Regions from separate parts of the Homo sapiens genome. Here regions 1, 2 and 3 are each linked to region 4. Evidence: fine-mapped expression QTL. A gene starts in region 4. Each other region holds a variant in brackets. All regions are shown on one strand. Distances are between the middles of the regions.

The links. PIP is the estimated chance that this variant, and not a neighbour inherited with it, causes the effect.
Region 1: its variant is fine-mapped to the expression of FARS2 in testis (GTEx, PIP above 0.99).
Region 2: its variant is fine-mapped to the expression of FARS2 in testis (GTEx, PIP 0.91).
Region 3: its variant is fine-mapped to the expression of FARS2 in whole blood (TOPMed, PIP above 0.99).

The regions. Positions count from the first base shown.
Region 1 is chr6:5,791,346-5,799,453 of GRCh38, reverse strand. No RefSeq gene overlaps it. Among named protein-coding and RNA genes, the nearest start is that of NRN1, 210 kb to the left of the region's middle. The variant C/T (reference allele first, on the strand shown) is at 4,507.
Region 2 is chr6:5,403,093-5,411,200 of GRCh38, reverse strand. It overlaps FARS2 (phenylalanyl-tRNA synthetase 2, mitochondrial), which reads right to left. Exons shown (of 7, transcript NM_006567.5): 3 at 6,500-6,659. Among named protein-coding and RNA genes, the nearest start is that of FARS2-AS1, 51 kb to the left of the region's middle. The variant TAG/G (reference allele first, on the strand shown) is at 4,479.
Region 3 is chr6:5,234,179-5,242,286 of GRCh38, reverse strand. All of the region lies in intron 1 of LYRM4 (LYR motif containing 4), which reads left to right. It overlaps LYRM4-AS1 (LYRM4 antisense RNA 1), which reads right to left. Exons shown (of 4, transcript NR_126015.1): 4 at 1,791-4,579. It overlaps LOC124901249 (a long non-coding RNA gene), which reads left to right. Exons shown (of 2, transcript XR_007059423.1): 2 at 1,564-3,736. Among named protein-coding and RNA genes, the nearest start is that of LYRM4, 23 kb to the left of the region's middle. The variant T/C (reference allele first, on the strand shown) is at 4,108.
Region 4 is chr6:5,257,872-5,265,979 of GRCh38, reverse strand. FARS2 (phenylalanyl-tRNA synthetase 2, mitochondrial) reads right to left here and starts at 4,467. Exons shown (of 7, transcript NM_006567.5): 1 at 4,320-4,467. It overlaps LYRM4 (LYR motif containing 4), which reads left to right and starts at 5,030. Exons shown (of 3, transcript NM_020408.6): 1 at 5,030-5,332. The coding sequence starts at 5,247. RefSeq lists silencers at 4,950-5,169, 5,230-5,539 and an enhancer at 5,750-5,799.

The DNA of each region.
Region 1 (8,108 bases), 530 kb before region 4:
AGTTGATACTGAAATGAGTTAAGAGATTTGGAGCCATTGGGATGGAATGAACGTATTTTGCATGTGAGAAGGACATGAATTTGGGTTGCCAGGGTTGGAGTGGTGGAATGCTATGGTTTGAATGTGTCCCTTCCAAAATTCAGGTGTTGCCAATGTGATAATATTAAGAAGTGGGGCCTTTAAGAAGTGATTAGGATATGAGGGTTCCTTCTTCCTGCTTGGAATTAGGCACCCTTACATTAGGCTTGGTAGAGGAAGTTCATCCCTTTTGCCCTTCAGCCTTCTGCTATGTGAGGACACAATATCCTCACCTCTGGAGTATACAGCAATAAGGCACCAACTTGGAAGCAGTGACTGGATGGTCATTGGACAACTGAATCCACTGGCAACTTGATCTTGAACTTCCTAGCCTCCAGAACTGTGGGAAAATTAATTTCTGTTCTTTATAAATTACCCAGTCTCGGGTATTTCGTTTATTTTTAAAATTTTTTAAACTTTAAATTTTTGTGGGTACATAGTAAGTATATATATTTCTGGGGTACATGAGATGTTTTAATACAGGTATGCAATGCATAATATTCACATCATGAAGAATGGGGTCTCCATTCCCTCAAGCATTTATCCTTCATGTTACAAACATTCCAATTATACTCTTTTAGTTATTTTTAAATGCACCATTAAATTATTGGTCTCAGGTATTTTGTTGTAGCAGCACAAGTGGACTAAGACAATGCATCTGTAAGAAGAGACATGTGAGAGATAATCTCTCTTGGCCATGTGAGGACATAGTGAGAAGTTGGCTGGCTGCAACCTGGAAGCAGGCCCTCACCAGAGCCCAATCATGCTGTCACCCTGATGATCACAGACTTCCAGCCTCTAGAATAGTAAGAAATAAATTTCTGTTGCTCATCAGCCACCTGGTGTATGGTGGTTAGTTTCAGTAGCTTGAACTGATTAAGACAGCATTTATACTTAATTATATAATTACATATATTTAAGCATCACTACAATAGAAATATTCTCATTCAGTTAACACCCAGGAGGGGCAAGAGAATTTTCTTTCTTTATAAGAAGCCAGTCCTTAGTAAGTCTCTACCTGCCTTCATGTGATAAGGACTCTGAGTCTGAGGCAGGAGAATGACTGGGCCCTGCTTCCTCTGCGGTGGGGGACTAAAACCTGTTCGGTATGTGTCTTAGTCTGTTTCGTGCTGCCATGACAGAATACCAGAGACTGGGTAATTTATAAAGAAAAGAAATTTATTTCTCACAGTTCTGCAGGCTGGGAAGTCTAATATCAAGGTGCTGGCATCTAGGGAGAGCCTTCTTGCTATGTCATCCCATGGTTGAAGGCATCACATGGTGGGAGAAAGGGAGAGAGAGGGAGAGAAGGGAAAAGAGCCAGACTTATCCTCTTATCAGGAACCCATTTTTGAGATAACTAACCCACCCCCCCTGAAAATGGCATTAATCCATCCACGAAGGCAGAGCCCTCATGACCTAATCACCTATTAAAGGTCCCACCTTTCAATATCATTGCACTGGGGATTAAGTTTCCAACACATGAACTTTGGGGAACACATTCAAGCCATAGCTATGTACTTAATTATTCCATACAGGATTTAAAAGCTCTGGCTGGCATTGGCCTGTCAGACTCTACATCACAGGTCTGAGAGCTCAGTGGTGGTCATAGCTTCCCCAAACCATCTTTATAGTCATGATCAAATTTGTATATCCCACCCAGAACTGTCCCCTGAGCTCCAGATTTACATTTTGAGGCATGTACTCAACATCTATTCTTGGACATCTCAAACTTATTACACCCAACAAGAGCCTAAGTCCTCCCCTTTTCATTTACAAGGATACCCTCTGATATGGTTTGGCTGTGTCCCCACCCAAATCCCAACTTGAATTGTATCTCTCAGAATTCCCATGTGTTGTGGGAGGGACCCAGGGGGAAGTAACTGAATCATGGGGGTCGGTCTTTCCCATGCTATTCTCGTGATAGTGAATAAGTCTCACAAGATCTGATGGGTTTATCAGGGGTTTCTGCTTTCACTTCTTCCTCATTTTCTCTTGCCACTGCCATGTAAGGAGTAAATTTTGCCTTCCACCATGATTCTGAGGCCTCTCCAACCATGTAAAACTGTAAGTCAAATTAAACCTCTTTTTCTTCCCAGTCTCGGGTACGTCTTTATCAGTGCGAAAACGGACTAATACAGTAAACTGGTACCAGCAGAGTGTGGTGCTGCTGAAAAGATAATCCTAAAATGTGGAAGCGACTTTGGATCTGAGTAATAGGCAAATGGTTGGAACAGTTTGGAGGGCTCAGAAGAAGATAGGAAAATGTGGGAAAGTTTGGAACTCCTAGAGACTTGTTGAATGGCTTTGGCAAAAAAGCTGATAGTGATATGGACAATAAGGTCCAGGCTGAGGTGGTCTCAGATGGAGATGAGGAACTTGTTGGGAACTGGAGCAAATGTGACCCTTGTTATCTTTTAGCAAAGAGACTGGCAGCATTTTGCCCCTGCCCTAGAGATTTGTGGAACTTTGAACTTGAGAGAGATGATTTAGGGTATCTGGCAGAAGAAACTTCTAAGCAGCAAAGCATTCAAAAGGTGACTTGGGTGCTGTTAAAGGCATTCTGTTTTAAAAGGGAAACAGAGCATAAAAGTTCAGAAAACTTGCAGCCTGATGATGCAATAGAAAAGAAAAACCCATTTTCTTAGGAGAAATTCAAGCTGGCTGCAGAAATTTGCATAAGTAGCAAGAAGCCTAATGTTAATCCCCAAGACCATGGGGAAAATGTCTCCAGGGCATGTCAGAGACCTTCAGGACAGCCTCTCCCATCACAGGCCTGGAGGCCCAGGAGGAAAAAGTGGTTTCATGGGCTGGCCCCAGGGTCCCTGTGCTGTGTGCAACCTAGGGACTTGGTGCCCTGTGTCCCAGCCTCTCCAGCTGTGGATTAAAGGGCCCAACGTAGAGCTCAACTTGTGGCTTCAGAGGATGGAAGCCCCAAACCTTGGCAACTTCCATGTGGTGTTGAGCCTGTGGATGCACAGAAGTCAAGAATTGAGGTTTGGGAACCTCTGTCTCGATTTCAGAAGATGTATGGAAACGCCTGGATGCCCAGGCAAAAGTTTGCTGCAGGGGCAGGGCCCTCATGGAGAACTTTGCTAGGGCAGTGCAGAAGGGAAATGTGGGGTTGAAACCCCCACACAGAGTCCCTACTGGGGCATGGCTAGTGGAGCTGTGAGAAGAGGGACACCATCCTCCAGACCCCAGAATGGTAGATCCACCAACAGCTTGCACCATTTGCCTGGAAAAGCTGCAGACACTCAACGCCAGCCTGTGAAAGCAGCCAGGAGGGAGGCTATACCTTGCAAAGCCACAGGGGCGGAGCTGCCCAATACCATGGGAACCCATTTATTGCATCAGAGTGACCTGGATGTGAGACCTGAAGTCAAAGGAGATCATTTTGGAGCTTTAAAATTTGACTGTCCTGCTGGATTTTGAACTTGCATAGGGCGTGTAACTTTGTTTTGGCCAATTTCTCCCATTTGGAATGGCTGTATTTACCAATTAATTGTACCCACATTGTATCTAGGAAGTAACTAGCTTGCTTTTGATTTTACAGGCTCATAGGTGGAAAAGACTTGACTTGTCTCAGATGAGACTTTGGACTGTGGACTTTTGGGTTAATGCTGAAATGAATTAAAACTTTGGGTGACTGATGGGAAGGCATGACTGGTTTTGAAATGTGAGGACATGAGATTTGGAGAGGCCAGGGGTAGAATGATATGGTTTAGCTGTGTCCCCACCCAAATCCTCAACTTGAATTGTATCTTCCAGAATTCCCACATGTTGTGGGAGGGTCCCAGGGGGAGGTAATTGAATCATGGGGCCTGGTCTTTCCCATGCTATTCTCCTGATGGTGAATAAGTCTCACAAGATCTGATGGGTTTATCATGGGTTTCTGCTTTTGCTTCTTCATCATTTTCTCTTGCTGCTGCCATGTAAGAAGTGCCTTTCGCCTCCTCCCATGATTCTGAGGCCTCCCTGGCCATGTGGAACTGTAAGTCCAATTAAACCTCTTTTTCTTCCCAGTCTTGGGTATGTCTTTATCAGCAGCATGAAAACGAACTAACACCCCCTCCTTGGTGAAACCTGAGTCAGGCCCTACTCAGCTCTCTTCTAGATTAGGCCTCATCCTCAGCCTGCCAAGCCCAGATTGGTGAGACTCTCCCCACTCTTGATGCCTAACCAAGTTCCTTTTGGTAATTTTCTGCCCAGTGACCCCTCACCCTGTCTGCTGGCCATAAATCCATGGCTGCCCCTGTTGCATTTGGACTTGAGTTCAGTCTCCTTTCCTATTGCGATAGTCTGGAATAAAGTCTTCCTGGCCTGTTAAACTCTGTCTAGTGTAATTTTTCTTTAACATCACCTCCACTCCCACCCCTAAAACTCATGCACCTCCAGCTTTTTCTGCCAGACACCAAGATCCATGGG[C/T]CCTAAAACACAGTTGCCATACTTGATGCCACCCCTCCCTTATTCTTTGCATCCAATCAACCCATCTCAACTCCGTCCTCTTCTCCCTCCCTAGTCCCAGTCACCCTGACCTCCAACCCCCATGACTACAGCCTCCTCCAGCTGGTCTCCCATGTCCACTTTTACCCCCTTGAATCCATTCACACAAAGCAGCAAGACTAAACTGCTTAGATGACAAATCAGACAATGGCTCACTCTTTCTCAAACCTTCCAAGGGCTTCCCATTTCTCTGAGATTGAAATCCAGACTCCTCATCTGGCTGCAAGGCCCTTCTCCCCAGCTTCATTGCATTGCCTCTCCCTGGTCCCTCTGCTCCAGGGGCCACACTGATGGGTCTTCTGTTTCATAATCACCCATCTCTGCCTCATCTCGGGTCTTTGTTCTGGGTCTGCCCTTGGCCAGGATGATGTCTTCCACTCAAGTGGCCCCTTCTCATCCACTGGGTCTCAGCTTCAATGTCAACCTCCGGAGACACTCTCCTGACCAATACCCCTAAAATGCAACCACTGCCACTCTGGTTCAGGCCTATGCTCATTTTCTTCACAGCCCCCACTACAATTGCACATAGTTATTTGCCTGCTTATCTGTCTTCATGTTTCCCTCCCACTGGCATATAAGCAACATGAGGGCAGGGCTGTGACATCCTTGTTGACAGTGACACTACCTTCACTTGCCTAGGACTGCACCCAATATGTGATAAACTCTCAGTCAAAACACACTGAATGACCTAAGTTAACCTTGAGTCGACATTGACCTTTCCTGTAAGCTCTTCGGTCACAGAACAGTCCTCTGCAGACCAGGGGGTGGCTTTCCTGATGGATCCCACAGTATTGCCTACTCCAGGCAAGCTCCTGCCCTCTACCTTGGCACAGCCAAATGTAGGCTGGCTTGTGGCAGGGAAACACATATTGTCTACATTAGCCTCAAAGTAGCATTACGTGTTTTCTGTTTGTTTGTTTGTTTGTTTGACAGAGTTCACTCTGTCGCCCAGGCTGGAGTCCAATGGCGCAATGCTGGCTCACTGCAATGTCCCTCTCCTGAGTTCAAGCAATTCTCCTGCCTCAGCCTCCCGAGTAGCTGGGACAACAGGCACATGCCACCACACCTGGCTAATTTTTTTGTACTTTTAGTAGAGACAGGGTTTCATTGTGTTAGCCAGGATGATCTCTATCTCCTGACCTTGTGATCCGCCCGTCTTGGCCTCCCAAAGTGCTGGGATTACAGGCGTGAGCCACCGTACCCAGCCAGTAGCATTCAATGTTCTTACATTTTATGTCACAAAGTGGCAGGGGTCCCATGACATGACATTGGACATTGTGTGGGCCAGGGGCAGATAAGCTTGCACCACAGCCCATGGCAACCATGAGTTCTGAGAAGCTGAAATGCACATGTGGGAAATTTGATACTTCTTCAATACAACAACAGAATTTCTCTATTTCCATCAAAGAAGGTCACTAGGAATGGAATTAAGCATAGAAAAGGAGGTTAGGGTTTTATTTGTTTATTTGTTTTTTTCATTTCAGCTCGTAATTAAGCTGTTAGGCAATGGCATTTTACTGAAAGTGGCTGCTGAACGTCCCTCTGGTGCCTGGGGTTTCCTGCTCAGGTTTCCCTTGCAGACCCCACAGGAGGCGGGAGAAGGCTGCTCAGGAAATTCTCATGGCATCAAAGCACAGCCTCACCCTCTTTAGGCCAAGCAGTTTCAAAGTGTGGACATATCAGACTTATTAAAATGGATAAGGGCTGAGTGAAATCCTGGAATAGACGAAGGGGGACACAAGCTGTGGTAGACACCCAGTGACTTGTGTAGGAAACGGGAGGTGAGGTACGGGAGCATAAAGGCACTCTCTTCTGACAGCTTCCATGTCCCAGGTAAGTTGGGAATGGGACCCAGCTCCCCTCGAGTGAGAGCAGGAGGAAGGAGCATTGGAGGCTCCAGGACAGAGGAGTATGAGCTGGTATCCAGGAAAAGGAGGAGCCAGCTGATTAATAAACTGCAGTGGGATTGGCTGGCAATAATTAGGGGCCACTGAGGTCCAGTCAGCAACGCAGAGTGACACCCATTGGCACTGGTTGGGCTTTGTCTCCAGGCTGTTTGGGTTCACACGTGTGGGTGGGTGCAGAGATGCAGACACCAGGGGAGGGATTTTTCCAGGCAAGCATGAGAGCGACAAGCAGGGCAAATGAGTTGTAAGTATTTGCCAGGGACTGATTAAAATGATGGAATGTGGCTTTACATTTCAGGTTTTATGTTTAAGTCTTTAATCCATTTTGAGAAAACATAGGGAAAAAGCTCTTTGGTATTAGCCTTGATGATGATTTTTTAGACATGATCCCAAAAGCACAGGCAACAAAAGCAAACACAGGTGGGATTGCATCAAACTAAAAAGCTTCTGCACAGCAAAGGAAACAACAGAGTGGAGAGACAGCCTGCCGAATGGAATAAGATATGTGTAAACCATGTATCCTATATGGGGTTAATGTCCAAAATATATAGGAAACTCAAACAACTCAACAGCAAGAAAGCAAATAACTTGATCAAAAATGGGCAAACAACCTAAATGGACATTTGTCAAATGAAACATACAAATGACCAACAGGTTTATGAAAAAATGCTCAACATCACTAATCATCGGGGAACTACAAATTAAAATGAGGTATCACCTAACACCTTGAGAAAGGCTTTTATCAAAAAGACCAAAGGCAGGTGTCGGTGAGGATGTGGAGAAAGAGGAACCCTTGTACTGTTGGTGGGAATGTAAGTTAGACCAGCCATTATGGAAAACAATTTAGAGGTTCCTCAAAAAATTAAAAATAGAACTACCACGTGATCCAGCAATCCCACTACTGGGGATATATCCAAAGGAATGAAATCAGTATCTAGAAGAAATATCTGCACGTCCACATTTGTTGCATTATTATACAGAGTAGCCAAGACATGCCATCAAACTCTAAGTGTCCATTGATGGATGAATGAAGAAAATGTGGTATATGCACACATGTGATATATATACTCCACATCCTCACTAACACAACAGAATACTACTCAGCCTTAAAAAATACATTTCCAACAACATGAATGAACCTGGAGGACATTATGCTAAGTGAAATAAGCTAGACTCAGAAAGACAAATACTGCATGATCTCACTTATAGGTGGAGTGTAAAAAAGTTGAACTTTATAGAGGCAGAGAGTAGGATAGTGGTTACCAGTGCCCGGGGGTGAGAAGAATGGGGAAATGCTGGTCAAAGGGTGTGAAGTTTCAGTTAGACATGAGGAGTGAGCTCTAGAGACCTATCGTACATCATGGTGGGTATAGTTAGTAACAATGTATTGTGTTCTTAAAACTTGCTAAGAGAGGCCGGGCACGGTGGCTCACACCTGTAATCCCAGCACTTTGGGAGGCCGAGGCAGGCGGATCACGAGGTCAGGAGATCGAGACCATCCTGGCTAATATGGTGAAATGCTGTCTCTCCTAAAAATACAAAAAATTAGCCAGACATGGTGGTAGGCGCCTGTAGTCCCAGCTACTCGGAAGACTGTGGCAGGAGAATGGCGTGAAC
Region 2 (8,108 bases), 150 kb before region 4:
CTTAAGCAATCCTCCTGCCTCAGCCTCCTAAGTAGCTGGGACTACAGGCGTGAGCCATTGGGCCTGGCCCTGATTTTTGTTGTTGTTGTTGTTTGGCCAGGGGGACATCATGGCTTTTATAGGCCTCACAGTCTCTGAAATATTACTAATAAGATTTCTTTGTATCCTATCCAAAAGCTAACTTCTGGTATGGCCTTAGAAGTCAGCCTGTGGGCTCGAACTGCCTCAAATACTTACCAGCCCTGTGATTTTTACATGGCACTTTTTCTCTGTGTCTAGGTTCCTGCATCTGAAAAACGGAGATTGTAACACCCATATCATAGAGATGGTTTAAAAATTTTTAAAGTGATACACACTTAAAATTTTTGATGTGATTCCATTTAAGAAGAATGTAGCACTAACAATTAATTATAAACCTAATTTTTACTCTCAATACAACATCTGAAAAACAGAGATTGTAACACCCATATCATAGATGCACGTCAAAAGAAAAAACTCCTTGTCAACGTGCTTAGCACAGGGTTTCACACTGTTAACTATTATCTCTATCGTCACCATTATTACCATTATTATTGCTATTATTAATGTAAATTTAATCCAGGTTGATGGCACCTAGATAGGTTTACCAAGACATTTTTCAGAAGCTAGCAAAATTACTTAATTAATAAACCAACCAACAGCAAGAACCCAAAACCCATAACTAATTAGTGCTTCTGAAATGCCTGAAATAGAACAACGCGGCCAGGTGCAGTGGCTCACGCCTGTAATCCCAGCACTTTGGGTGTCCAAAGTGGGTGAATCACCTGAGGTCAGGAGTTCGAGACCAGTGTGGACAACATGGTGAAACCCCGTCTCTACTAAAAATACAAAATACAAAAAAGTAGCCAGGTGTGGTGGCGCACGCCTGTAATCCCAGCTACGTGGGAGGCTGAGGCATGAGAATCGCGGGAACCCAGGAGGCAGAGTTTGCAGTGAACTGAGATCACACCACTGCACTTTAGCTTGGATGACAGAGTGAGACTCCATCTCAAAAAAAAAAAAAACAAAAAAACACAAAAACGAACAAAGCACTTTTCTTCAGAGTTCAGAAGAAACAGCTGAGAATCCTGAAAGCATTGTTAACATTCAGTGTGAGCATGAAGGAAGCACACAGCACTGTCTGTGTTCTGTGATACAGACCCTCTCACTCTTCTAGTTCATCAGATGGGCCCAGGTTCCAGTCACCTTCCCACTTCACTTCACATCTCCCCTGAGAGGCAATACAGCGGACGTCACAAACACGGCAAACACGGTCGGGGACAAGCTCACACACCTCTACAACAACAGCTCGTGGCAACACAACCGGCAGAAACACACCAGGGCATGGCAAGGGTGTGTGAATGAGGCACCTTTCAGCAGTTTCAGGATGCCTGGCCACTGTGTGGATGGGGTTAAAAATGACCATGGCTCAAAGGAAAGAAGAAAAAGAAAAGGCTTTCTTCCCAGATAGATTCTGATGCGTGTGAACCAACATGTATTATCCAAGCAGGTGGATTTTTAAACTTTAATTCCATTCCATAATTCTGCCAGCTCAGTCTTACAGACAAAAAGTGAATTTGAACATTTATAAAATAGCAACATCGATCTGTAATAAAAGCTGACTACCAAAAGTCTAGGCTGACAATATTTTTAAAACAATAAAGCAACATATGCCGAAATGAAAGAAGCTACAAGTTCACTGCTATTCTAAAATTTAAGTTTCTTTTTTTTTTTGAGTCAGTCTCGCTCTGTTGCCCAGGCTGGAGTACGGTGGTGCAATCTTGGCTCACTGCAACCTCCGCCTCTCAGGTTCAAGCGATTCTCCTGCCTCAGCCTCCTGAGTAGCCGGGACTACAGGCGTGTGCCACCACGCCCAGCTAATTTTTTTGTATTTTTAGTAGAGATGGGGGTTTCACCATGTTAGACAGGAGGTCTTGATCTCCTGACCTCATGATCTACCCAACTCGGCCTCCCCAAGTGCTGGTATTACAGGTGTGAGCCACCGCGCCTGGCCCAAATTTAAGATTCTTAATTCTTGGCCAGGATCATGCCCACCATGTCAGGACAGGCATCACAGTCAGAAAAGTCATATATTGCATAAATTGTTTTTTGTAAGGAAACCTGACATCTGCATTTGAAAGCTACGCAAATACAAATATAAAAAATAACACAAAGGAAAGTCTAGGACCATATTTTCAGAGAGATATATATCCTGAAACACCTTGGACAGCTTATATAATCTATACAGAGGCCAGCACATGGCTTACTTTTTAAAATATCTCCTGGTGCAGATATGAAAGCCACCATCAGCACCAATAAGGCTACGGTGCCACAGTCTGGTACACAGCTCCTTCTTGTTCCCTCAGACATGATAAAGGCGAATCAGCCATGACCGTTGCTCTTTGATCGTATTACTCTTTCGTCATGTGCTCCCTGCTTTTATTGTCTTGTCTTAACTTTCCTTTCCTTCCTTCCTTCTTCCGTTTGTTCATATTTACATATTTATCTGATATTTTTTACTTACAAGGCATCTTTCACGTTATCTTGTTTTATTCTTGAGTGAAGCAAGTATCATCACAACTTTTAAAAGTTAGAAAACTGAGACCTGAAATGCTACGTGACCTGTTCAGGACTTCAGAGTAAGGGGATGAACAGGAGCTTCATTTTAAGTTTTCTGATTCTACACTACCGTTTCTCCATGGTCATAAGAGTCTACTGTCAATCATTTTTCTTCCCCTTGCCTCTTCTTTCCTTCTTTCCGTGGACTGTGCTGCATCATGCTTGCTCTCCACAAGTACTTGTGTCACCTGCTTTGTCATTTTTCACCCCATTCTTCTGCCCCCCCACCTTGCTTATCCTTTCCCAAGGCTAATTCCCACTTACCAGGTGTCAGCGTGCATGTGCCTCAGCAGGAGCCTTCCAGGAGCACAGGCTGGGCTCAGGAGGAGGCGCCTTGCCTGTGTGCTCGGAGAACATCCTATGTTTCCCAAGGAGAGAGCTCAAGATCCAAGGCTCCATGGCTCTTTGAAGACAGGGAGTATGGCTAGCTTATTCAATATTGTGATGCCTGCAACAGGGTGCAAATCCAGCTTCTAAACCTCACCAAACAGCAAATCATTTGATTATAGAAATATGTAGGATGACATAAATAAGGAGGATGCTAAAAAAAATTCTCTCCATAGTTTGGCAATGGAAAAATTCAGATGAGCCTGAATCTTTCTGTTAAGACACAATGCTACCTCCTTAAAATACTAGAATCCCTTCTACCTCACCCTGCCTCTAAAATGGCCTGAACAGCTCAATCCATCTCCCTGCATTTGTGTTAAACAGATGATATAAATGTTTAAAATATCACAATTCCTTTCTTTTATCATGAAAGCAAAGAGATGCTGGCTATCATAGGTTTTTCACATCAGCAATTTCTATTTGAAACCTATTTCACTATTATATTACGCCATTTTAATGAAATATATCAAACCTAGAGACAGGAAGAGAAAATAGCAACCACCCATATACTCATTATTCAGTTTTATCAAACCATAACATTTTGTCATATTTAACTTTAGTTTAAAAAAAAAAACATTATAAATCCATTTGAAACATGGTTTCCACCCCTCCCTAATACCATTTCCCACTTCCTAGAAAAACATTATCCTGAAGTTGATGTGCACTTTTTGAAAATGTATTTATATTAAAAATACAGAAGATTAGCTAGTGGTTTCTTATATATTACATGAACTATGCGTTTGGCAATATGGCAGTCAAGATATTCTAAAAAACCTTGCTAAAACAGAGCAGGAGAGGCTTAATAAATTACAACAAGATTCTCTTTAAATACATATTTGAGTTCAGGCATAAGTAGGGGAAATCTGGAGTATGAAAAAATAGAGGTGAATCAAGAACAGTGAGTACTGAAGTCCCAGCTGGAAGAACGGTGACCATGAATCCTGCGTAAGGCCAGAACTTTGTGCTATACTCTATTTCTCTACACCTTTGTCAACGATTTAAAATGTTAGATTTAAAAAATTATTTCCCATTTGAAAAAGCTCTTTGTGGTTTTGTTTTTCCCTGATTACTAATAAAGACAAGCATCTTTTCATATATTTATTGGTCATTATATATATATATATATATATATAATTTGCCACCTTCATGTTCACCCATTTTTCTCTTAAGTTGCAATTTCTGTTTGTTTATATGGAGAAGTCCTTTATAAATGCCAAATGTGTATTTGACATACCACTGGACTCCTGTTAGAATGGCTACAATTAAAATGACTAACCCTATCAAGTGTTGCTGAAGATGTACAGCAACTGGCATTTTCAGACTACTGTTGGGAATCGAGATGGTGCAACCCTTCAGATAATAGCTTAGCAGTTTTTTTTTTTAAGTTAAACATATACCTATGTTTATGAGGAGTGAAAACGTACGACCCAGAAAGACTGATCCATGAATGTTCA[TAG/G]ACGCTTTACTGATAATAGCAAAAAACTGGAAACTACCCAGATACCTATCAATGAATGTATGGATAAACAAATCGTGGAATGGGATACTGATTAACAAAAGGAATCAACTACTCATATACACTATGATATGGATGAATTTCAAAATAATTATTTTAAGTAAAACAAGCCAGACAAAAAAGAGCACATATTCTAAGATTCCATTTATATAAACCTAAAAAATGCAAACTGATTAATGGCACCAGAAAGCAGATCACATGTTGCCCGGGGTGAGATGTGGTAAGGGCAGAAGGGAAGGATTGCCAGTGAGCAGGAGGAAACTCCTGGGGACAATGAAGATGTTCATGTATTGATTCTGCTGGTAGCTTCATGGCATGAACTTGCAAGACGTCAAAACTTGTAAGACTGTGCGAGTATGTTCGTGTGCAGTTCATTGTATGTCAACTGATCAAAATGTACACTTTAGATATGTGTAGCTTACTTTATGTTAATTACACCTCAACAACACTGACTTTTACAAAAGCTCACAAGAATAAGAGAGTAAAGGAGAATCCTAACCACAGTAGGTCATCTGTCTTCTCAGATAAGAAATGTAAGTATTTCTTAAAGATAGTCACAATTAGGAAAATCCACTAACCTTCTCTTTATATCGTGATTTAAAAAAACAAAATATATCTCAATTAAGTTAAAAATAGCTGGAGGGGGAAGGTGGCATTACTGAAAACAAATATTTTTTGAAAAATAAAGGCAAGTGACTAAGTGAGGTCTAGATTGCAACACTATTGTTCCTCCTGCACGAAATATACTGTTAATGTTTTTGCTGTTGATATAATATACTGTTAATATACTCCTGTTGATAGTGGTAATCAGTATGGCAATACGTAAAGTTTTCCACTGGTTCATTCACATGGTTAAGAACCTTGCTCCACTGGGCCGGGCGCCGTGGATCACGCCTGTAATCCCAGCACTTTGGGAGGCCGAGGCGGGTGAATCACAAGGTCAGGAGATCGAGACCATCTTGGCAAACACGGTGAAACCCTGTCTCTACTAAAAATACAAAAAATTAACCAGGCGTGGTGGTGGGCGCCTGTCATCCCAGCTACTCAGGAGGCTGAGGCAGGAGAATGGCGTGAACCCAGGAGGCAGAGCTTGCAGTGAGCTGAGATCACCCCACTGCACTGCACCCCAGCCTGGGAGACAGAGCGAGACTCCGTCTCAAAAAAAAAAAAAAAAAAAAAAAAAGAACCTTGCTCCACTGATCACGTCCTCATGTAATGATAACATAATAATATACTCCAAATCAGCCTGTATATTTTCACTCCATTGATGAGACTGACCTAATCCATTATCATTCTTAGCAAACGTTATAATCATTTTTCTTTCTCTAGCTAAAAGTTTCTGAGTGCCAATCTGCAGCCACAAGTGAAACATTTCGTACCTGAACTCATTAAGATTTTCAGTCAAATCGCAGTCAAAACTTTGTTTCACGCACGAAATTATTTAAAATATTATATCAAATTACCTTCAGACTATGTGCGTAAAGTGTATATGAAATACAAATGAATTTCGTGTTTAGACTTGGCTCCCATCCCCAAGACATCTCATTATGTATATGCAAGAATTTCAGGCCTGGCGCGGTGGCTCATGCCTGTAATCCCAACACTTTGGGAGGCCGAGGTGGGCGGATCACGAGGCCAGGGGTTTGAGAATAGCTTGGCCAACATGGTAAAACCCTGTCTCTACTAAAAATATAAAAATTAGCCAAGTGTGGTGATGGGCGCCTATAATCCCAGCTACTCAGAGGCTGAGGCAGGAGAATTCCTTGAACCCGGGAGGTGGAGGTTGCAGTGAGCCGAGATCGCACCACTATACTCCAGCCTGGGTGACAGAGCAAGACTCCGTCTCGGGGAAAAAAAAAAAGAATTTCAAAATATGAAAAAAAAAAAAAAAACCCAAATCCAAAACACTTCTGTCCCAAGTATTTCAGATAAGAGATCGTCAACCTGTGTTTGAGCACTTACCATCTCCAAAAAGATGTGCCATGAGCCTGGTAAGCGTTTGCTTAAGATCAAACTCTACAAGCTTCACGGCCTCCATGGTGTGTGTCTCTTGTTTATGCGCAGAGCGAGAACTTTGTTCAAAGAGCTGCAGGCTTTCTCCATCCTTTATACCAGCAAATAACTGTAAACCAACAGGAAAGTATAAATAAAGAAAATATCCTGGCCCATCTATATCAGATAACTTTAAAATTCTGCTAAGAATCTTTTGACTCTAAAAAGTTATAATGTGGGAATAAGACTCATTATGTCCTGTCAATAAACGTAATGAAATTAACATTCACTTAGTACAACTCTGAAGAAAACACTACGCTACATGGTATGGGGGGTTTTTAGAGAATTAAGACACTCTTCTGATCTTTGCTAATCTGTTTTTGATTTGCATGAACTTATAGTCAGTTCCCAACAAGAGACATTATCCTCAATTCTAGTGGAAATACTAGTGAATCGCTTTCATATTCTAAAATTACATCCCTGACCATCCCACAGTGTCGAGGAATTAAATCCTGTAAGGTCCATGAAGGTAGGAAGCAAGCTGGAATTTGCTAGTCCTGTATCTCCAAGGCTCAAGGCAGAGCCTCAAACATGTTTCTGCCGCTTACTATCTGTGTAAACTTAGGCAAGTGATACAGTAGCTAAGCCTCAGGGAATCATCTATAAAGTGGGAATAATAATAGTAAATTAGTAGATTTTATTACAAACAAAATAATATATAAAAAATACAGAGTATCTGGCACATTCCAATGGCTAAATAAGTTTTCCTCATTATTGTCTTCATGATTATTAACCACAGCTATCATTAGTCATAAGCTGCTTTACCACTGAAATAAAGTAACTTTCTGGTCAGTGACACAGCAGGTCTTTACTTGGTAGAAGATTGGCTCAAAAGGGATAACTGAGCAAATGAATGTATCATTCTTCCCACCCAAAGTCCCATAATCAAACATAAAAAATGTTTTAATAAAAGAATGAGTCAGCTGCCATTTCTAGTAATGTTGGTTTTGATAATTAGAACCAAACTTCCTGATAAATGCTACTGAAAAAAATACAGAAATTCTTAACAGCATTGAAGAAGTAAAACCGAGATAGAGAGGAGTGACTGAACTCTACAGGAAGCATGAAGCCAGGGGTAAAAAATTAAAAAATAAAAATAAAAAATAAAGTAAGCACAAAGCCAGAGAGAAGCATTGAGAGTATCTGCCTATCTAACCTATCAACTGAAAACCTGAACATGGGTTGTAACAGCTTACCATGGAAGTGAGACAAAAGGGAAAGCTTTGCTGTGGAACCAAGCTGGGGTGTTTGAGTCCCTAAAAGACTCATCCCCCTGATGAGGATGAGCACAAAAGTAAACCAGTCCTTGTGTAGACTTGCAGTCAGGTATCACATTTTCTGAACAATAGAGAGAGCTTCAGGCTACGAAGATGATCTAAGGCAATCCCAGACATACTTCCTCTAACTGGCCAGCAAAATGAGACAAAACCGTTTTCAGAGAAATATTCTAATATCCTAGGCCTCAAATTATTCTTATGAGGACTAAAGACAATGACGGCTGTCAATGCTTCCTCTAAAA
Region 3 (8,108 bases), 24 kb after region 4:
TCCTGGCTAACATAGTGAAACCCCATCTTTACTAAAAATACAAAAAATTAGCCAGGCGTGGTGGCACGTGCCTGTAGTCCTAGTTACTCAGGAGGCTGAGGCAGGAGAATCGCTTGAACCAGAGAGGCAGAGGTTGCAGTGAGCCGAGATCACACCACTGCACTCCAGCCTGGGTGGCAGAGTGAGACTCTATCTCAAAAAAAAAAAAAAAAGTGTAAGCAAGCCAGGAAATTATAACTGAGACAATGTGTGTGTGAAGGCCTTGTAATCTGTAAAGCACTTACAGATTAAGGTAGTAGTAATATGGCCGGGAGTGTTTGGGAGTTTCTTATTTAGGTTGGAGGATCTTAGGGCCTTGCTAAAGAAGATGAAGGCCTCTATTAGAATCTCCAATATTTCTGAGTCAGGCCAATGGCACGATGTATCACCATTTTACTTCCAGTTATCTCCACGGCCTGTTTTCCTGTCTCTAATCCTTGTGGACAGGAACTTTTTGATATTGATATATAACATATGCCTGCGAACCATATTCATTCAATTAACAAATGTTTACTGAGCTTCCACCGTGTAACAGGCACTGTTCTAGGCACTGGAGATTCATCAGCGAAATAGAACTTATCAAGTTTCAGCCTTCATGGAGTTTATGTTCTACTAAGATTTATGTTACAGCAGAAACTTCCAATACTTTTGATCACTGAATACACTGGAGGCAGTGGTCTCATAAATGCCTATGCTGTACAAAATTCTATACTGAGGCCAAGTTACAGTCTGATTCCAGGGATCAAAAGCATTGGAAGAATTGGTTTCATTCAAATTCTGATGAAAACCATTGTAATGCTAATAAAGTCTGTACTTGCCTACGAGACTGTTTACTGCCTTAGGGATCTCTCCTCCATACTTACACAAATCCCTTATTATTTGGTAGACTGAGAAGAAAAGGTAGCTTCAGAGTGAATTAACATTGATTGAATACATGCTGTCTGTCACGCACTGTATGTTATAGACTTTAATATGCATTGTTTTATTTAGTATAGAGTCACTATGAAATGAGGATTCTTACTTCATTTTACAAATACAATCATAACAGCTCTTTTTTTTTATTAACCATCTCCCATGGGCCGGACACATACTAGGCCCTTCCTTGCATTGTCTTATTTAACTGTCATAAAAACTCTATTAAGCAGGCACTTTTAATTTCCCCCATTTTGCAAACAAGAAAGCTGCAGTTCATAGAATAGAAGTAACCTAAAATAACAAAGTTGGTATGGAGCCAGCTTAACACCGGATTCTCCAAAGCCAACGTTTTTCCCCGTATTCCACGTTGGTTCAGGCAGGTACATTCCCTGCTTCCACCTCCTTTTGCATTTTTGGATGTGCTTCTTTATGTAAGTGATAATAAGACTGACGCGTTCCAGTGTCCCTCCAAGTGGGCCCCCGCCATTGAGGCGCTGCTGGTGTTTCAGTGAAGCTTTTTCTGTTCTTGCCTCCCCTTGACTTAAATTACAGGTCAGCATGTGGACTCTTTAGTTGTTACTCCCTAAATAATTATTTTCATTTTCTTAGCAGTCCTTTCTTTCCCTGGCCATGCTCACAAAGCTGGGACCTACATTGGATACTACTGCTGCGGGTTTACAATCCTCAGTTGACCTGTCTGCGGGGAGACGGAAGCCCCTGAGTACTTTGCCCAGGATGTCTTGTCTTTGGAACTCCACTCCTCCCCAGCTTGGCAAAACCCTTGGTGTGCTCTTCTTTTAAAACAGGGTAAAACAGATACTTAACAACTGTCATTTCACAGTTGGTATTTTAATAGATATTTCTCCCAGCTGCTATTGTTTTAGATTTCTTAAGTAAATATTTTTGTATTGTGTTTGAGTATCCTAAGGTAATATTATCACAAAGGGTACAGTTTTATACATTGAAAATAAATTAACTTGGGTACATGCCATATTCCAAAGTGTCAGCAGAGGAGGGGGAGTAGTGTTAATGTAAATACTTCTGCAGAGTAGTAATAATGGATGGCAGAAAAAATGAAGAGAAAGGAAAGATAGGAGGTGAGATTTTACCAGAGTGAGTCAGGGAACAAGCAGACGTAGAGAAGGCCTGGAAAGGTTGGATGTACTGTAAGGAGAGTTTTCAGCAATAGGATACAGCTGAGGCTAGGTTTGGCAGAGCTAGGTGGAGTACTGAAAGGTGATGTCTTCGAAGCCTGTGGTGTTTTGAGTCTTATTTTGCCCTGTTTACCTTAATGGAAGGAAAGATCCTAGACCACAGGCCCTGGGTTCCACCTGATTGGCTGCGGCAGGCAGCATGAGCATCCCTGCCGGGGGCATCAGCTTCCCTTCTCTCTCTGTCCTCTCATGCACTTGTTCTGCGCCATGGCCAGGTACTGTTCCCTATGGGGGTGGTGAGAATGTTTTTAAGGGCCTATGCTCAGGGACCCTCATAGAGCAGAAACCCAGATTCTGCAGGTCTGGAAGAGCCTTGGGAAAAGACCAATGTGGCCTGTGCCGATTAGGAAGTCAGTGATACCCTGACAGCCTGCAGCTGGTGGGAATGGTCTGTGCACTCTCCCGGCTGTCAGCTGCCCTCACTCCTCACTCTGCTGCAGTCTGGCCTGCCACCTTCCTTCTTGTCACTTTCCTTCATTGTATCTTTGGCCCAATTAACCAGTCTCCAGCTTCTTTCTTCCTTCCCTAGCGTGCGGGACACCACCTTCTCCTTGTCTGCTCCTCTCTTGGCTCCGCTTGACATTGGAGGCCCCTTGCACTCCATCTTGACCTTCCCACACCCTCCCTAGATGCCCACAACTCATGGCTCCAACCTTGTGTGCTCTAGTGATTCCCCTCCATTTGTCCTTTCCAGGGGCCTCCTGGGCATTTTCTGGTTATGCTACCAACACCTCGTATCTAAACTAAAACTCCACATCATCCCTAACCCATCCCCAACCTAATCCTTCAGGCAAACTCAACACTCCAGCATTGCCTCTCATCATCCCAGTATTTCCTTGTGCAAGCTGGAAGTCACTTCACTTTCTCCCCTTACTTTACCGTAGTCAGTAGGTCCTTATGCCCAGCAGGTTCTCTCACTTATTTCCCTTGCCGGACCTTCTTTATGTCTCACGAGTTGATTGCTTTTTGTTGGTTCATCAGTTTCTGTCTGCATTTTGTACAGCCCCCTCCGGGTCTATCTACCTCCTGTTCTTTGCTCTGCCAGGCATCCTGCCTATTGCCACCGGAAAGAATATCTTTCTAAATTCCAAATCTGATTCTGCTGCTTGCTTAACACATGCGTGTAAAAGTAGCATAATGGGTTATCAGAAGCAGAATTCTTCCTTTAGAGGCTAACATTTTGTCAAGAAAATTTGACTAGGTAGATTTCAAATGCATAAATGCTGAATGAGAGCCCAGTTAATAGTCTCGGACTATGAATAACTGTGTCCAAGACCTTATTATGTTTATATGAAATAGGTTGGATTTGCTTATAAAATTCAGGTATCCTAGTAGATTCATTTTCTGCTGCTGGAAATAGTAAGGACTGACCCTGGGTCAAAATTTGCATTTGTTTCCTATCATGTAGAAACTTCAGCAAAATAAACAGGATCATAAAATTAACATTTTATTGTTCTTCACAGATCTGTATTCACTTCACCACTCTCACTGAATTAAATCACCCTGTTACTTGTTTATGTAAGGAAAAAAGAACAAGTCAACTGACTGAATAAACTATGGGTTATTTACAAGGCCCCTGGACTTACTCCTATTTAAATGCTTATGATTTGTTAGTTGACTTAATATATCCAGTGCCTATACAAATTCAGATAATCAATGATGTCTCTTTAAACACAAATCCTCTAATAAGAATTTCTTTTTTAACATGAGTATAGAATTACGCTGGGAGTGACTTCTCTTAACACTGTCATTTTGCTGCAGCATGGTTAAATTAAATTTACTTGGACTGCCCTGTGAACCTTACCATCATTTAACATTGTTGTTCCAAATTCTCAGTAAGAAATTTTAGAACCCTATCATGTCTCTCAGTATATAGTTTATACTCCCATAGTTTATTTGAAAACAAGTTGCATTTAATTTTATTCTGAATTTCGATATA[T/C]TTTTAACCACAGATCAGAATTGTTTGTGGGTGTGTTAAGTAAGAAAAATCAGGAAAATAAGAATAGGAAAACCAAAATAAGTCCTGGGATGAGGTTTCCAAGCAAAAGGGTGGTTAGAAGGCAGGACAGTAAGCAGCCAGGAGCACGGCCTCAGGTCTGGTTCTGAGCTTCCCAGCAGCCTATGCAGGGAGAGGACCATGATTAGTAATGTGAGTCAGAGTGTCTGTGATACCGAAGCAGCCACTTTCTTAGAAGAATTGTAACTCTTTCTGGTGCTAAAGCGGAAGACATTCTCTTATGCTCTTTCAATGAAGGGCAGCATCCTCAGCATAAGTACAACAGTTTCAAAGGGCCTGTGCTTCTGGCATCCTGTCACGTTGGCTGGTAGCACAAGGCCACAGTAGGAAAGCATTTTGCAGGTAACCAAAATTGCAGGTCCTTGGCACATCCAACAGACACAGCTTAGCATATCTAGAAGAGTAGATACAGGGCTTGTCTTTTAGGCAATCCTTCATAAGTAGTGCTCAGTTCACCCCAACTTTTCATACATTTTAAACCAGTGGTCCCCAACCTTTTTGGCACCAGGGACTGGTTTCATGGAAGACAATTATTCCACGGACTGGGGTTGTGGGGGATGGTTTCAGGATAATTCAAGCACATTACATTTATTGTGTACTTATTTCTGTTTATTACATTGTACTATATAATGAAATAATTATGAAACTCACCATAATATAGAATCAGTGGGAGCGCTGAGCTTGTTTTCCTGCAACTAGATGGGTCCCTCTGGGGATGATGGGAGACAGGGACAGATCTTCAGGCGTTAGATTCTCATAGGGAGTGCACAACCTAGATCCTTCGCATGCGCAGTTCACAATAGGGTTTGTGCTCCTATGAGAATCTAATGCCACCACTGATCTGACAGGAGGTGGAGCTCAGGTGGTATTGTGAGCGATGGGGAGTGGCTATAAATACAGATGAAGCTTCGCTCATCTGCTGCTGTGCAGCCCAGTTCCTGATAGGCCACAGACAAGGGTTTGGGGACCCCTGTTTTAAACACCAGTGGATGTGAAGTTACACTCCCATACAAGCTCTAGACTGAGTAGAAAGCCAATTCTTTACCTTGAGGGATTTCCCACGGACAGAGTCAAAGACCCCTAAGAACTTTGAACCCACTGCAATTCAAAGCCCTTCTGTTCTGTTCCTTAGAGATTGTCTTTTTAAGAGACAGGGTCTCACTGTCACTCTGGCTGGAATGCAGTGGCATAATCACAGCCCACTGCAACCTCGACCTCCTGGGCTCAAGTGATCCACCCACCTCAGGCTCCCAAATAGCTGGGGCTACAGGCATGCAGCACCACACCCAGCTAATTTTTAATTTTTTTTTTTTTTTTTTAGAGACAGGGTCTCACTGTGTTGCTCAGGCTGGTCTTGAACTCCTGGGCTCAAGCAATCCTCCCGCCTTGGCCTCCCAAAATGCTGGGATTACAGATGTGAGCTACTGCGCTTGGCCCCCTTAGAGATTTTTTTAGAGGGATTATTATAACAGACCATCTCTTTTAAACAAAATAATATTCAGATGAGATCTTCAAATAATTTATAAACTGTAAGTCTGTAGGGTTAGTTTGAGTTAGGAGCCACTTAACATGTACCAAAAATGAAAACTTTGGTTTCAGAAAATTTTATCTAACACTTTTTTTTTTTCCTTTTTTTTTAGATGGAGTCTCACTCTGTCGCCCAGGCTGGAGTGCAGTGGTGCTGTTTCAGCTCACCACAACCTCTGCCTCCTGGGTTCAAGCAATTCTCCTGCCTCAGCCTCCCGAGTAGCTGGGATTACAGGCGCCCGTCACCATGCCCGGCTAATTTTTATATTTTTAATAGAGACGGGGTTTCACCATGTTGGCCAGGCTGGTCTCAAACTCCTGATCTCAGGTAATCCACCCGCCTCGGCCTCCCAAGGTGCTGGGATTACAGGCATGAGCCACCACACACAGCCTAATGCTCATTTTTAATAATGTAATATTTTGAGCTTACAGCCATTGTCTATTAACATCACTCCACTTGTTTATTAAAACCTCAATATCCACCTACGGGAAAATGGCTTTCCCTCTGCGCTCAGGAAGAGATATATTTGACTGTACTTTGTTCTTGTAGAGTGGTCATAGTTTTGTTGACATAGAGTTCCCTCTCAGATAGTGTCAAAAAAGTGGCATTAAGCATAATGTTAACATTTCTTTCTTATTCTAGGCCAGTATATTATATATACAGTATTAGGAATCTCAAAACCAGTGAGAATATTTTATATTTTCACACTTTTTCCAGTGGCAGTCAGTAAACACATTTTCTTCTGATGAAACCACTTTGTAACCAAGTAAAGCTCAAACACAGGGGTAAAAGAACAGACCTTGAGCTATGTTCTTAAGACTAACACAACCAGATTATTTTTCTGTTTAAAGAATTTGAAAGTAACTTACATCCACATACTTAATCTTGTGCAGGAGTAGAATTGTAATGATGTGTTTAAATACCTTATGCCTGATACAGCAAATGTTGAATGTAATATGCTGATAATTGGAGGTATATGTAAATTATTTCCAGAACTACCAAATATTAGCAATTTGCTATAATGGCTATTAAATGAATAATGAAGAAAAGATAAGCATGTGATTAGTCACCAAAACATAAAACTATTGTCCAAAATTTCTTGTGAAGTTAAAAAAAATGAATACTGTATTAGTCTATTGATATATATCATTCTTGTGACTAAATGTAACTGAATTTTTACTCCTTCTAGAATAGAAATCGGCTTGTGGGTCTTTGTGATTGTATTTGGTTTGTTTGTTTGTTTTAATTAAATAAAAAATTACAGTGTGCCAGGCGCAGTGGCTCATGCCTGTAATCCCAGCTATTCAGGAGGCTGAGGCAGGAGAATTGCGTGAACCCAGGAGCCGGAGGTTGCCATGAGCCAAAATCATGCTACTGCACTCCAGCCTGGGCAACAGAACGAGAGTCCGTCTCAAAAAAAATTACAATTCAACAGTGGTTTTAACACCACTATGTGCAAAGCATAGCAGGTCCTATAGGGGAAGTAATGATGGAAAGGGGCCAAGCACTGTCTTAAAGAGATGAGGAACCTGGTGGGAGGAGAGACCTGCAGTGAGTCCCCGGGTACAAGGCAGTAGAATGGGTAAGCAGTGTGCCAGGTACAAAGCTCTGGAGTGCAGCTGGCAGTGAACCTGAGCTCTGGGGGTTTGGGAGTAGGGGGACAGGAGTTTGGCATTCTCATTGGTAGAAACCGAATTTTGCTTGCTAGCTATAATTCTGAAACTACAACTTTACTGGTAATTTCCTTCTTCCTCAATCTAGTAATGTTACCAGAGAATTCCATCCCATGTTCAGTTCCACATACTTCCTTTTAAAGTCACCTTTCTTTTTTTCTTATAGCTCCTCTCTCCTTTTTCCAAAACTTTGTATTCCTTCTTCGATATTTTTATCTTTCCTTTTCTGTGTTTTCCTACTCATGTAGAACCTTGGGTTTTGAATTCTATATTTATTATTAGCCTGCCGTTGCAGAAAGGCTTTCCCTCTGGTGAAATTCTATTCATCCTTCAAAGACATCACCTTCCCTGGAAAGACTTCTCAAAGCCCCTGGCTGAGTTACTCCCTCTTTCTCTGTTCTCAGAGCACTGTGTATACTCCTGTTATAAAATAGAGTAATTTGTAATATGTGCCCAATACCAGGAGCTTTGTAAAGCTTGTCCTGTTTTGATTTGAATCCTTATAGCCTAAGGGCACCTGGCGCCTCTGTGGAGGAGCGCAGGAGTGAAGGGAGCTGCCCCGTGAAGGCCACTTGCCATTGGGTGATAAGAACACGAGGGGCTCATCTCACAGAAGTTCCTTGTTTTGTCCACATCTTAGGGATGCTAAACACAAACAGAATAAATAATTTAAATAATAGTGAAATTTTCCCCAAAACTAATGCTTCAAATGTAAAGCAGTT
Region 4 (8,108 bases):
TTTCTCAGCCCTGGCTCTACCCAATCATGGAGAGAATTTTAAAAAAAAATTAAACAAAATTATCTGAAGCCTGGGCCTTAGCACTGCTGTTGGTCTGAGGTGTGGCCCAAGCATCAGGGATGAAGTGACCTCTCCTTGCACTGAGACCCCACAACGCTTCAGCAGCCCTTTGTACAGGATGGTAGAAAAGTTATTGCTGTTTTCACCCTTAAAAGTAACGGTCAAAACTGCAGCTACTTTCACCAACCTAATACCTTATTTTAATCATATACAAATGCATTTAAAGTATAAACTTCTGGAAAACAGGATCAGTGTTTGATTTATATATCGCCCTCAAGTTACCACAACAACAGTAACTTAAATTGCTAGGCTGCCAGCTATCTCTTGAATGCACAGGTAAATAAATAACATTTCAGTGCCTCTGGAATATAGGATTCAAAGTCATGATTTGAAACAAAAGGTTATCAGTACCTGAATAAATAATCTCCATTTCAACAGCTCAGCTGTTAAGTTCTACTTATATAACTCAGCCAATGCATAAGGGAAGAAATGATTTATTCCAGACAGAGAGAAAACATCACTAAAATAAAGCTAGTACAGGGCTAAACACTTCAGTGGTCCCTCCCTTCCCACCTCCTACCATTCTAAAACACTTAAGAGTTCTCTAAATAGATCAAGCACCCTTCTTCCTCCATGCTTGGATATACACTGCAATCTTTAACCACATTCCTCATCTGGCTTTTACTTCTCATTCTGGAAACACCTTCTACGATGGAAAGCCTTCCCATAGGTGAAACTCCTGGTTCAATATTCCTCTTCCCTATTCCTTTAGCGTTTACTAATATTACTCATATCGCAGCAACTGTCAAAAAGAAATTATTGGCCAAGTGCCACGACTCACAGCTATAATCTGAGCTCTTTGGGAAGCCAAGACAGGAGAGGCACTGAGGAGTTTGAGACCACCCTGGACATCATAGTGAAATCTCATCTCTACAAAAAAAAAAAAAAACACTTAAAAATCTGCCAGGCATGGTGGCATGAGCCTATAGGCCTAGCTACTCAGGAGGCTGAGGCAGGAAAATCACTTCAGCACGGGAGTTTGAAGTTACAACGAGATATGATAGCACTACTGCACTCCAGCTTAGTAAACAGAGACCCTGTCTCTATAAAATAAATTATTGTTTCGCTTATCTAGTCACCTACAAGTTTCTTAGGGGTGGGGAAGCTCTCATCACTGTGACTATATCATCTTATATAATATATGGTACTTATGGGCCGGGCGCGGTGGCTCACGCCTGTAATCCCCACACTTTGGGAGGCCAAGGCAGCTGGATCACCTGAGGTCAGGAGTTCAAGAAAAGCCTGGACAACATGGTGAAACTCCATCTCTACTAAAAATACAAAAAATTAGCCGGACGAGATTGCACCATTGCACTCCAGCCTGAGAAACAAGAGTGAAACTCTGTCTCAAAAAAAAAAAAAAAGAAAAAAGAAAAGAAAAACCATAACCTATAGTACTTAGGAAGTGTTCAATAAATGCTGAAGGAATGAACGAATGAGGAAAAAGTCTTCAGTTTGTTCATCTGTACAAATGAATGAGTTGATATCTAAGGTCTTCCCCCTTCCCCTTCGTGTTCTATTAAAATGAAGGATCAATGTATAATACTTGGATTCATGTGTGGTGTAGAATAGAATAATTTCTTTTTGTTGTTGTTGTTGTTTTTTCTTTTTGGTAGACAGGGTCTCACTCTGTTGCCCAGGCTACAGAGCAGTAATGTGATCATGGCTCAATGCAGCCTCAACCTCCAGGGCTCAAGCAATCCTCCCACCTCAGCCTCCCAAGTAGCTGGGACTACAGGCACATGCCACCACACCCAGTTAATTTTTGTATTTTTTGTGTAGAGGTGAGGTTTCGCTATGATGTATTTTTTGTATAGATGGGGTTTTGCCATGTTGCCCAGGCTGGTCTCAAACTCCTGGGCTCAAGCAATCCACCTGCCTCAACCTCCCAAAGTGCTGGGATTACAGGTGTGAGCCACCATGCCCAGCTGAACAATTTCTAAATAATATCGTAAGTTACTACTACTATACAAATTTTACTTTATACATCATTTTGATATTTAAGCTTAAGGACAGTAAATTGTTGTTACACTGTTTATTATGATTAGAGAAATTTCTCTTCACAAAGCATTAAGTGGTCATTAACAACCCTAATTTTAATAGAAGGTAACACATGATCTTCCATAAAGAACTACAGGTAGTCGATAACTTTTGATAAATGAATACTAAAGAAATTTTTACGTTTTGATGCCTAAATGGTACCTCCTGTTTTACAGATACTCTCTAAGAAAAATTTCAACCCAGAATAGAATGACTATTAAAGGACGTATGTGTAAGGTCCATTCTTCAGCTTCTGGCCCAAATCTACTTACAATCTCAAATCGAGTTATTTTTTTTAAGTCATCTCCGCAATGAAGATGTGCAAAAGTGAGATGTAGCTACGGAATGATTATTTTCTTTTAGCCTCTCCAGGCAATGATGTCCAACACATTGGTAAACCATTTTAAATAAAATAATAAGGTATTTTTATGAAGACTTGGCTCAGAATTAACTGGGAAGCCTATCACTTTCCTAACTGCAACCATTGCTCGTACTAACAGAGGACTAAGCTACCCAAACTATTTAAACTATACATATTTATTTGGAAAAGTTTTATTTGATTACAACAAAGTTGAGTAATTTAGATACATTAATTATGTACGTTAATGATTAAATTCCTTGATAATTAGGTAGAAACAATTGTATATAGTAATTATTCCAACTTTACTCTCAAAAGCAAAATATAATAAAATAATGTAATCTTTGCTATTTTTAAAAAAGCCAAAATAATCTTCAAGTTTTTCCTTTTCACTCTGATAGCATTCTCTATCAGTAACTTGCATTAATGTTGTAGCTTTGAGGTGCCGCATATCATTTCATATCACTGGCACACAATAGTGTATCAAGAGAAATCAGCTCTGAATCTTACTCTATAACAATGTGCAATTGCCTTGGTCTTGGATCCTTTAAGAAATAGCAAAGGGAAAACTCAAAAAAGTCCTTTCAATAAAGCAGAGGCTAGATTTGCTCAATGACCTGACCAACCAGGAAGTAATAGAAGTTTTGCTATCCTGTTTAAAAAATAATAATAAACAATAACAGACATGAGATTTTCAAGAAATCAGGGAGGAGACTTAAAGATATCTTAATAAAAGTATTTTCTCTTCAGTGCCTTTTAAAAAATGTCATTGCATCAGGATTAGTAAGAATATCTGGATGCAAGGACACCAGGTTGCAAGTACACTAAAGAATGGTAAGGTCAGAGAAGTGTTTTTTCTGCCTTTAAAGTTCCTGAAAATAGAGGCTGGGCGTGATGACTCACACCTGTAATCCCAGCATTTTGGGAGGCCGAGGCGGGCGGATTGCCTGAGGTCAGGAGTTCGAGACCAGCCTGACCAACATGGTGAAACCCTGTCTCTACTAAAAATACAAAAATTAGCTGGGCGAGGTAGCGCGCGCCTGTAATCCCAGCCACTCAGGAGGCTGAGGCAGGAGAATGGCTTGAACCTGGGAGGCATAGGTTGCAGTGAGCCCGAGATCCCGCCACTGCACTCCAGCCTGGGCGACAGAGCGAGACTCCATCTCAAAAAAAAGAAAAGGAAACAGAAAAGTTCCTGAAAATATAAAGTTGTTTAGACATACAGCAGGTATATCGTTTCAAAACCAAATACACTAAAGCAGATGAGAACACAACCGTGACCAAGTGGTTCGGAGAAAGATGGATTTTAATGCAAAGTTGTTTTGTTTTCACGCATAACGTACTTCTCGCTGTGCTTGAGTGCAGAAAGGTGTGGTTCTTCCTAAGGTTGATTACATAAAGCAAGATTCCAAAAACAAGAAAAGTGCTTTGCAAACACAGTAACTAGGACTGGCTGAAGCTTCCTGCGTCCAGTGCCATGCTCAAAGATCAGAACAAGCAACTTTATCCACCACTTTAATAAGATGATTCAAAAAAGCTGCAGTCTTCTGAAGAAAGCCATGGTTGAAAACTTGCTCCGCTTCTTGGAGAAAGCCTAAAGCCCTAAAGGTCTCTAATTATTCTCCAAAGTCTACAACCCAAGCTGCATTTTATGCATTTATTAGGTTACAAAACCACGGGAACTCTTCACTCAAAAGCAAAAACACATCCGGAAAGAGGAAAAAATCCACGGCCAATGTAAACCCCCTACAACACCAACCGCCCACGTCGTACCCCAGGCTGCAATGAGGCCGGCACTCACCCACCGCTCGCCCGGGAAGCCCAGACCCAGGTGTTTCAAAATCAGAAGTACGGCAGGCTCGTTCGCTCTCACGGGCAAGAATCTTAAACCCCAACTTCAGAGATACCCGCGCACGCTGGGCGCTGCCATTTTGACAGAAAGCGGGCCTGCCCCAGAGGCCCCTACGCAGGTCGCCCTGAGCAGAGCCGGAGTGCCACAGAACCCCTAGCTCATCACCTCCACACCCAGACGTCGCATCCCCCGGCCTGAGGAATGCCAAGAAACCCCACCCTGCCGACCAGGATCAGGCGAAATCAAGTCACCCTTGAAATCCCGCAAACTCTCTCAGGCAGCGCCGAGGGCGACCGCAGCCGGCGTGGGAGGGGCATCGGCGGTCAGGGGCGGGGCGTCGGTGCGGCGGCCTTCGGTAACCCGGGCAACGCGGCCTCCTGGATGTAGGAAGGGGCGCTGCCCCCGAAACACAAATGTCTCCGCCAAGACCCCAGACGGTTCCCAAAGGCTCTCCGTGATGCAACTGCACGTCCCTCGAATGCCTGGGCCTCCGATATCCGTCCGCCAGGAGCTTGGCTGGATGCACGGGCGGCCAGTCCTCTTATTTCCCCGCCCTCCCGCCGCGTGGAGCGGCTGCTGGGTCCCGAGCCTCCGGGCGGGGGCGGGATCGGGGCGGGGCGGAGGCATCTCCCTCCCAGCACCGCCCCCTTAGCTGCCCCGAGCCCTGCCTGCGCCCGCCCCCGAAGCGGCGCGGGACGCCTGGCGCCGTCCGCGATCCGCAGGGCTGCCCGCTTAGGCTTAGGCCCGGCCCGCTGGCAAAGCCGAGCCGCAGCATTTTATTTCGTTCGTGGTTTCCGCACAGGCTGGAGTTTCGTGGGTTGGGTCGTACTTGGGACCTCGGCGAAGAGGACCCGTTTATTTTTTTTTCTTTCCAAAATGGCAGCCTCCAGTCGCGCACAAGTGTTATCTCTGTACCGGGCGATGCTGAGAGAGAGCAAGCGTTTCAGCGCCTACAATTACAGGTGACCCAGCGGGCACCGGGGGCCGGGGGCGGGGGGCCAGGGGCCGGGGACCGGGGGTGCGGGCTGACGCGGAATATCCCCGGGGACTGGGAGCCACCGTGGTTTGCCGGCGGCTGCGAGGCAAGGACCGGGCTCCGCCATCGAAAAGCGTGCTCCTGCCTACAGGTGTGGCCTCTGAGACCTCGGGGAGGAGCCTTTCTTTCTACCAGGGGAGACGTTCATGTCTTGTGACGTTTTCCCCCTAAAGGCTATCTTGGTAGTTATTCTAGGAGCATGATTAGTGTTATGTTTCTGCAGAAGAGAAAAAAGGGATGGAAATCAGTCATTTGTGAAGTTAAGGCCAGTGTGTTGCATATGTAAAACTTCCCTTGAGCACTGGAAGAGTTGAGAGTGGAAGTGGCCAGTGAGTAGTACACTGCGACAAAGCTGAAGGCACACTCTAGCACCTCCCTAAAATTTCCTAGGTGTCGTAATGAGTTCTTTTGGTTGCAAGAATCCATTCTATTTAGGGTATGGTGGAAATGCGTAGCGGAAAAGGAAAAAGGGTCTCACAAGCTTTGGAGCTGAAACCTCAGTTTCTCCTGGCTCACCAGACAGAGATCCCGCTTACTGGACCTTGACAGCAGGATATTGAGGGCCTAAACTCACATCTTTAATATAACACATTCACTTTTTCTCACGCCTCCCCACTCCCCTATTTGCCTATGAGTCTTTTATTGTTACTCTTTGTATGTTTTTTCTAATTCAGAGCCTCTGCTTTCACAGTGTTGCTGGTTCTGACCCATCATTTTCTTATGGATTCTCTCTCTGCATTTTTTTTTAGATTTGTTTTTTGTTTTGTTTTGTTTTTACTAACTACCTGTCTCTCTCTGAGTTTGAGCCATATTCCCATGAGAAAGAATCTGGTTGGATCAACTCATCTCTTTACCTCAAGCCTCACTTAGGTGACTGGCCAGACTGTGGATTGGATGTCATAAGAGCAGAGCCTACCCTTGGAACACACCTGGTTAGGTAGGCCCCCCTCCAGCACGTGTGTGAGCTGGCAGGCCCTGAGATGGGTCTGCCCAGTACAACCTCTGTCAGAGGACAGGAACGCTAAGCCTCTTAAGCAATGACTCTCAAATTTTTAGAAACCCGCCTGGAAAATATACTCATGCTGCAAATTTGAAAACAGCATCTGGGTCATACCACTGAGGTTGTATCCACCCAGTTAAGTGGTTAAATTTCACGGGAGAGAATGATTTTACTTAATGACTTTGACTTTGGAGAATAAAGAGTGTAATAATAAGCATACTGGTGGAATTTTAGCAAGAATTAACCAAACACCTAGCACCAAGTACTTAACCAAGTCTGTTGAGGAAACACATGAAATATGCAAGTTAAATAAATAGAAACCATTTGATTTCACCATAGTCTGGAGTAAAATAGTTTGTCATTAAAGCTTACTCAGGATACACAAGGACTTGGAATCAGCAGGCAGTTCACACACTAAGGAAAGTGGCAGGGAGAGGGTTTATGTGAGAGCATGTAAGAAAGTCAAGGTGGAGCCCTCGAAGACTAACTTGGACAAGTCTCTCAATCTCTGTATTTCAGTTTTCTTGTTTATGAAATAGACTGTTGGACTAGACAATCTCTAAGGACCCTTCCATTTCTGAAATTCTCTTTGGAAATGATTTATGAGCAAATGAGGCCCAAGCGTTTTCAAATGAGTAATTGCCAACTGAACAGGAAAATCATTCACGAAACTCAACAGGAAAATCATTCAAACTTTAGGAAAATCATTCAAGACTCTACCTGAAAGGCAGAAAATTGAAAATGGGTTTCAGTATGGGCAACTGTAAGATCATATGCATTCAGAAAATAATTGATCAAATTATACCTTAAGCATATACTTTTAAGCTAAATTTACTATCCAAATATAAATATATTATCCAAAGGAATCTGATAATCATTTTATACTGTTACCTGAGATCATAGACCTAAAAACCGACATTCCTGCTATTACCTCCCTAGATAAACTTACTTGTTATAAAAATACGTCCTTTTACATTAAGGCTGTGTCTTGTGAATTTCAGGAAAAGTCCCTTCCCTCCTCTCTAATCTCTGCAGCTGTTTGTCACTGATGGCAAATCAATAGCAACACAACATCCACTATCAATTCTGTGTGCCACTGCTATCTTATGTTCTTCATGTCTATTAACACATTTGTTTTGACAATAATCTTGTGAGGTAGGTACTATTTGTATTACCCTGTAAGGCAACTGAGGCACAGGGAGCTTAAGTTACCTATCAAAACTAACACAGGTAGTGCTGAATAAGCAATCAAAAGCAGACTAGTAAACGTTTTTTAATGACCTGCGAATTGTGCCTTAAGTAATTAGAGTAGTGAAATAAATACTTTGGAACTCTCTTGCAAGACCTATAATATAGGCCACGTTTTGATAGCAGGAGCCCTGTCTGCTCCTCCAGTCTCAGCCTAAGTCCCACATGTGCATCCTGTCCTCTGTCATCATCAGTTGCAGTTTCCTAAATGTGCCACGTCCTGTTGGGCCTCCAGGCCTTTACAAGTACTGTTCTATCCAGCAGGCCCTTTATCACTCCTGTCTAGAGTGCCCCCTCTTCCTTCAAGATTGAGCTCAATTGTCACCTTCTCTGAACAAAAGTTTTCCCAACTCTCTTCATCCCACAGCTTCCACTCCCATCCCTCCCACCAGCCAAACAGGTCTCATTGCTGTGTGTCATTCTTTTACCTCAGTGCTTCTACAAAACATCTCTG